Homo sapiens: one gene and its partner. The protein of the gene in region 2 purifies or fractionates together with the protein of the main gene of each other region. This does not show direct contact. Each region holds a gene or a part of one and is shown on either strand. Other genes may lie near its edges.

Region 1 (3,500 bases), on a different chromosome or scaffold from region 2:
ATTTTTTGTTGTCGTTGTTGGTTGTAAACAAGACAATTTAGTCAATATTCTGGAAAGTTCTGAAAGCTTTTACTCCCCATTTCTGTTACTGACTTGCTCAGATGCTGACAGAGCCAATGCATTCACCACGTCTGCATCGGATACCAAAGGACCTTGGGCCTGCTTTATAAAAGCTTTTAGAGATCCTTTGAGATTGCAATGAGATTAGTGTTCTGCTCATTAGTGTTCTGCCTCTCCAGCTTGCAGAACACGGCGGTTCCCTAATTCAACCGCAGGCGAGATTACACCAGGGTAGTTGAGGCTGACGCGAAGGCCAGCCACAGAAAGGCCTAGCTCTGGGCCGGGCATGCTGGCTCACGCCTGTAATCCCAGTACTTTGGGAGGCTGAGGTGGGCGAATCACGAGGTCAGGAGATCGAGACCATCCTGGATAACACGGTGAAACCCCGTTTCTACTAAAAATACAAAAAAATAGCCAGGCATGGTGGCAGGCGCCTGTAGTCCCAGCTACTCGGGAGGCTGAGGCAGGAGAATGGCGTGAACCCGGGAGGCGGAGTTTGCAGTGAGCCGAGATCACGCCACTGCACTCCAGCCTGGGCGACAGAGTCAGACTCCATCTCAAAAAAAAAAAAAAAAAGAAAGGCCTAGCTCTTGGATCCAGCTAGGTCCTGTTTTCCTCCCTTGGGGCCCTGGGAACAGATACCCATCTCGCAAGGCTGATGGAAGATACAAGGAGACACTCTTTTGAAAGTGCCTACCCTGCACCAGGCTCAGAGCAGCGCCATCTGGGAGAAACTTCCTCAGTCACTGGGAGCGTGAAAAGCCATCTCCTTATACATAGGACAGCCAACGTTTGCATCCCAGAGTCATCATTTCTATTTTCAGAAGTATCCTAATTTGGATGAAAAATAATGGAAATTGTACTATCAGTGACAAGGCCTTAAAAGTTGATTTGTTCTGCTGTCTTGACTGCCAAAGCAAAGCATGTCCCAAACACCAGGAAGGCTGAGTGGGTTGGGAATGGGTGGCAGGTGGCCCCCAGCACTCTGATGTGGTTTGATGATACGCTTCCAACCCTCGAATGGGAAAAGCCTGTGGCTGGCACCGCCCTCCTGGGACTTGCGCAAGCCAGGAAGCTGTGTGACTGTGTGTGTGCACATTCTGCCAGAGTCCAGGTCAGCACGTCAGAGGGTCATGAGACAGCCCGGCCCTCCGGGCTCTTAGGGCAGAATATCTAGATGTCTTCTACAGGGCTCTCTACTGGTCCCGTTACCATCTTGGCCACATTGGGCCCATCCTTCTCCATGCATGCTTGCTGGTGATGCTAGATTATCTTGATGACCAGACCAAAGAAGTTACTGGCCTGGTAAAGACAGATAACACAGTCAAGACTGCCAGCCACACATCCTTCTCAGCACCCAGCATTTAGAAAACATCAGTTCTGGGCTGAGCACAGTGGCTCACATCTATAATTCTGACACTTCGGGAGGCCAAGGTGGGAAGATTGACTGAACCCAGGAGATTAAGACCAGCCTGGGCAGGATAGTGACCTCGTCTCTATATAGAAAATTAAAATTTAAAATAAAAAATAAATAGGCTAGCGGTGGCTCAGGCCTGTAATCTCAGCACTTAGGGAAGCCAAGACAGGCAGATCATGAGCTCAGGAGTTCAACACCAGCCCGACAAACATAGTGACATCCCGTCTCTACTAAAAATACAAAAATTAGCTGGGCGTGGTGGCACACGCCTGTAATCCCAGCTACTCAGGGGGCTGAGGCAGGAGAATCACTTGAACCCGGGAGGCGGAGGTTACAGTGAGCCGAGATTACACCACTGCACTCCAGCCTGGCGACACAGTGAGACTCCGTTTCAAAAAAAAAACAAAAAAACCCAGCAAATATGCCATCACTGACCAACAATAAAAACAGGAAAAGTGTCACTCAACCCATTTATGCCAGAGGTTGCAATTTTTTAAATTTTTGCACGAGTAAAAACATCAGACCTTGGCGATGACCTTGAGCAGTATGATGTAAAAACTCCCACATGCTTAGCGTTCTAATAATGGAACACTAGGCATAAGTGGGTTACTGTTGTCCTACAGCAAAGATTAAATTTGAATTTCTGGTCATGAAATTAAAACAGGGGTACCACTTCAAACCCATCAGATTGGCAAAAATCAAAGTCTGGTACTATCTAGTGTTGGTAAATGTGAGGAACAGGAACTCTGCACACTGCTGGGCGAGTAAATTGATGCAACCACACTGGAGAACCCTTTGCCAGCATCTAGCAAGATGGAAGATGAACACACCTCATGACCCAGAAACAAACTCTCCCACATGTGCCCTGCAGAAACTCTTCTAAGTATCTGGGAGACACAGGATATTTATTGTAGCATGGGATAATAGTGAACACGAAATAACATAACTGTCCCTCAGTAGATAAACACACTGGGCACTTAACACAAATGGACTAGAACTGGATGTAGCAACAGAAATAAATCTCACAACCGTGAGTGAAAAAGGATCCATGTAGTGTAACTGAAGTCATATAAACTTTAATAACATTGTTTATACACTGATGCAGAGTTTTAAAAGTACAAAAAGGCCTGGAGGTGACTCATGCCTTGTAATCCCAGCATTTGGAAGGCCTAAGTGGGAGGAGGCAAGGGGATCACTTGAAACCAGGAGTTTCAGAGCAGTCCTGGCAACAGTGAGACCCTGTCTCTACCAACGAAAAAAAAAAAAAAAAAAAAAAAAACCTGGGCACCGCCTGTGGTCCCAGCTACTTACTACTCGGGAGGCTGAGGTGGGAACCAGATCGCTTACATCTGGGTGGCTGAGGCTGCCGTGAGCCGTGGTCGCACCACTGCACACCAGCCTGGGAGACAAAGCAAGACCCTGTCATTAATCAAACAATAAATGAATGAATGCATGAACAAAAAAATGTGCAGAAGAATCCAAAAGAGGGGCAGCAGACAGGGAATACAATGGCCCTTGGAAGGATCAGGAAACAGGCACAGGAGTGGTCTACAGAGGCGGACGATAAGGCTTGAAACTAAAAAAGAGATTAGTTAAAAGTCTAAACACATGGCTGGGCACAGTGACTCACACCTGTAATCCCAACACTTTGGGAGGCGAGGCGGGCAGATCATTTGAGGTCTCTACTAAAAATACAAAAATTAGCCAGGCATGGTGGTGCATGCCTCTAATCCCAGCTACTCCGGAGGCTGAGGCAGGAACATTGCTTGAACCTGGGAGGTGAGGTTGCAGTGAGCTGAGATTGTGCCACGGCATTCCAGCCTGGGTGACAGAGTGAAACTGTCTCAAAAAAAAAAAGAAAGAAAAAAATGTCTAAACACAGAGTGGAATTTGATCCCTAAACCTCCTACCCCACACAAGCTAGGGTAAATATAAACATTAACAACCATGCCAGGGCGCAAGGTTTGCCTCCCACATGCTCTTTCTCAGGCAGCCTGGGACCAGACGTAGAGACTGCTGCCTG
Region 2 (3,500 bases):
CTCCTGGGCTCAAGCGATTCTCCTGCCTCAGCCTCCTTGAGTAGCTAGGACCACATATGCACGCCACCATGCTAGGCTAAGTTTTAAAAGAATTTTTTGTAGAGTTGGGGTCTCACCATGTCGCCCAGGCTGCCTTTTGTTTTTGGTTTTAGTTAGTTTTTCATGTACCACACAGAAGAGTTAATCTTTTGTTTTTAAAAAGTATTTTTTTTTCCAAAACCTACCATGTGAAATTTTTAAGTAAAATTTACCTCAATAAAGTTGTAAAAAAGACAATCTACCACATGGAAACGTTTTATTTGTTACAGATTTGTATATGCATAGTAATAAATATCTGACTTCGCATTTTGCTACTCAGAATATTGATGTAAAAGTCATAGATGTTATGCTTTACTTAGCATGGATTATATTTTATTAAATAAACATATTACACATCATATGATCAGATGAAGAGAAGAGTCTTGACGTAGGTAGCATATGGCTGTATAATGATAATATGACTAATTTTATCTCAGGGATTCTGTGATATAGTTTAAGATAAATGAAGACAACACGCTATGTCTTAAGACAAGGTTAGTGATGACTCTGGAAAACTGTCTAGGTGACTCAAAATCACAGACTGTGACTCTTAGCTTCTTGTTGAGTTGATTCACTACCTTAATAAGACAGATTCCATTAATATCATTACTGTTTTAACTGAAATGGTCTGAAAAGTATATATTCCTACAAAATAAATATCTTCTACTCAATGCAAAATAATAATTCATTGATTGACATGAATTCTATTTTTACCGTATCCCAAAAAAGTAACAAGTCAAATGCATATGGACAACTGTCTTATTTATATCTTAAATATCTTCAAGTATCTTTAATGTTTTCATTGCACTTGATATTTGTGATGACACATTTCAACTCTTGGCCATCTATTTTATCTTCCTACTATGGCCTCTGATTTGTGTCATAAATTAAATGACAGCCTTTCTGACAGAAAACTTACTTTGTAAAATGAACAAGTTCTAAGTGCAGACATTTCTTCACATAAGAAAACAAACATATTATGTGCTTTCTTTTCAGCTCAGAGCTAAGTAATAATTTTATCATTCCAGATAGAATAAGGTTGTATTACCTTACATCAATATAAAAACTTTTATTGCCAATTCAAAAAAAATTTTTTTATGATCTGAACAAATTCAATGACAATACCATGAAAATATCCTCTAGTTTTTAAACTAAACCTTTTGAGTTCTCTTAGAGAATTTTAAGACTAAAAACGATAGGAAATATGCCTTGTGAGTTTTGGTCTTCCAGTTGCTGATGTGGCATGCTATATTTAAGAAGAAGCAGGGCTCAGTGGCTCACACCTGTAATCCCAGCACTTTGGGAGGCCAAGGTGGGTGGATCACTTGAGGCCAGGAGTTTGAGAACAGTCTGGCCAACATGGTGAAACGCTGTCTCTACTGAAAATACAAAAATTAGCTGGGCATGGTGGCACGCACCTGTAATCCCAGCTACTTGGGGGGCTGAGACACAAGAATCGCCTGAACCCAGTAGGCTGAGGTTGCAGTGAGTTGAGATCGTGCCACTGTACTCCAGCCTGGGCAATAGAGTGAGACTCCATCTCAAAAAAAAAAAAAAAAAAAAAAAAGGAAGAAAGGAAGAGAGAGAAACCTTAACATTTCTGTTTATATATGCTGTTTTTTCAGACAAGGTCATTGGCCTCCTTGGTTTTCCTCGCTCTCTCTGCAATCCCCCCTTCTCTTCTCCTTCCCCGTTTTTTCCACAGGCCACCATCCCTGACACTCTTGCCATAAGGCTTCCTGTTTACCACTCAGCTCCTGCAATTTCCATGTCCTCTATCTTCTCTTTACTAATCCCCATCTCCCCAACCCTCTCTACACATCATTACCACCTCATCTCCTACTTTGTCAAAAAAAGTACAGAGTATGAACCTCACAGGAAAAGCCCTCTGAAATCGATCTGCTGGTTAGGGAATGAGAAGAGGTAGAGCCAGGCAAGGCCACTCCTTCTGGGTACATAGGGAAAGAAATTAAAGCTGCTACAACTAGACAGTCAGAAGTTGCTCAGAAGTGGTAGTCCTAAATGTTCTTAAGGGAGCTACTCTGGTTTGGTTATGGTTTGTCTGTCCCCACCAAACCTCATGTTGACATTTTCTTCCCAGTGTGGCAGTGTTGAGAGGTGAGGCCTAGTGGGAGGTGTCTGGGTCATGGAGGTGGATCCCTCATGAACACTTAGTGCTGCTCTCAAGTTAGTGAGTTCTAGCTTTGGCAAGACTGAATTAGTTCTTGTGGAAATGGAGTAGTTTCCTCGAGAGTGGGCTGACATAAAGCCACATGCCCTTCACATGTGTCCACTTCCCCTTTGACCTTCTCTACCATGTTCTGGCAGCACAGAAGCCTCACCAGAAGCTGAGCAGATGCTGGCACCATGGTTCTTATACAGCCTGCAGAACAGTGAGCTAAATAAATCTATTTTCTTCATAAATTACTCAGCCTCAGGTATTTTTTTTTTTTTTTTTTGAGACAGAGTCTCGCTCTTGTCACCCAGGCTTGGAGTGCAGTGGTGCAATCTCGGCTCACTGCAACCTCCACCTCCTGGGTTCAGGTGATTCTCTTGCCTCAGTCTCCCGAGTAGCTGGGATTACAGGCACCCGCCACCACGCCTGGCTAATTTTTGTATTTTTAGTAGAGACAGGTTTCACCATGTTGGCCAGGCTGGTCTCCAACTCCTTACCTCCGGTGATCTACCTGCCTCAGCCTCCCAAAGTGCTGGGATTACAGGCGTGAGCCACCACTCAGCCTCAGGTATTCTTATACAGCAACACAAAACAGACTAAGGCAGGAGCTAAACAGGTCAGGAAAGTACAGCTGTACAGTGGGACCAGCACACTGAAGTCAGCTGCCCAGAGGCCACCCCAGAGAAGGGACTACAGTCAAAGAATGCAGCATAGACAGTGGGGCACAGAGTTTTGGTATTTTTAAAACTCCAAAATCAAGATGATGACTCAATTATTCAAAATATGTGATTAAAACACTTCCTGAATAACACTATTCTCTGCCCACTTACACCCTGCATTGAAATTCTGAACACTCTTCTCTATATCTCTAAATTTTGTTCTTCTATATCTCCATAGTCATCAAAAGAAAAGAAAAATGACCCTGACTAAGCATAGCTTCTATGGCAAGAACAATTCTTATTCCAGTTGGAGGACTTTCCAAATGAGGAGTCATGGGCACATTATTGGAACTGGTACAAGTCACTGTGCAACAAAATCATTTTCTGATGAAGCTGAGTAGAAGTACTTTTTTAAATAACAAAAACTATAGCTACAATCAACAAAAAAGCAAAAAGTTATCCAAAAAAACATTGCTTCAATTGTAAATAAGAGGTAGGATTATTTGAAGATGAAGGATTTAGAGGAAAACATCTGGAGCTAGCTTGTATGTATCTCTTCACCATTTCTCAGCTAATACAGAATCAGA

The links. The genes of interacting proteins can lie anywhere in the genome.
Region 1: the proteins of RNF103 (region 2) and CTSB purify together in Homo sapiens (affinity purification with mass spectrometry, with the first as the bait; one large-scale study listed by BioGRID). This does not show direct contact.

Annotation. Positions count from the first base shown.
Region 1 is NC_000008.11:11,861,588-11,865,087, forward strand, and holds part of CTSB (cathepsin B isoform 1 preproprotein), read right to left. Parts: intron 2,897-3,500; exon of another isoform or gene 2,789-2,896; intron 892-2,788; exon of another isoform or gene 758-891; intron 1-757. UniProt on the Homo sapiens protein: Thiol protease which is believed to participate in intracellular degradation and turnover of proteins. Cleaves matrix extracellular phosphoglycoprotein MEPE. Involved in the solubilization of cross-linked TG/thyroglobulin in the thyroid follicle lumen.
Region 2 is NC_000002.12:86,606,866-86,610,365, forward strand, and holds part of RNF103 (E3 ubiquitin-protein ligase RNF103), read right to left. Parts: intron 1-3,500. UniProt on the Homo sapiens protein: Acts as an E2-dependent E3 ubiquitin-protein ligase, probably involved in the ER-associated protein degradation pathway.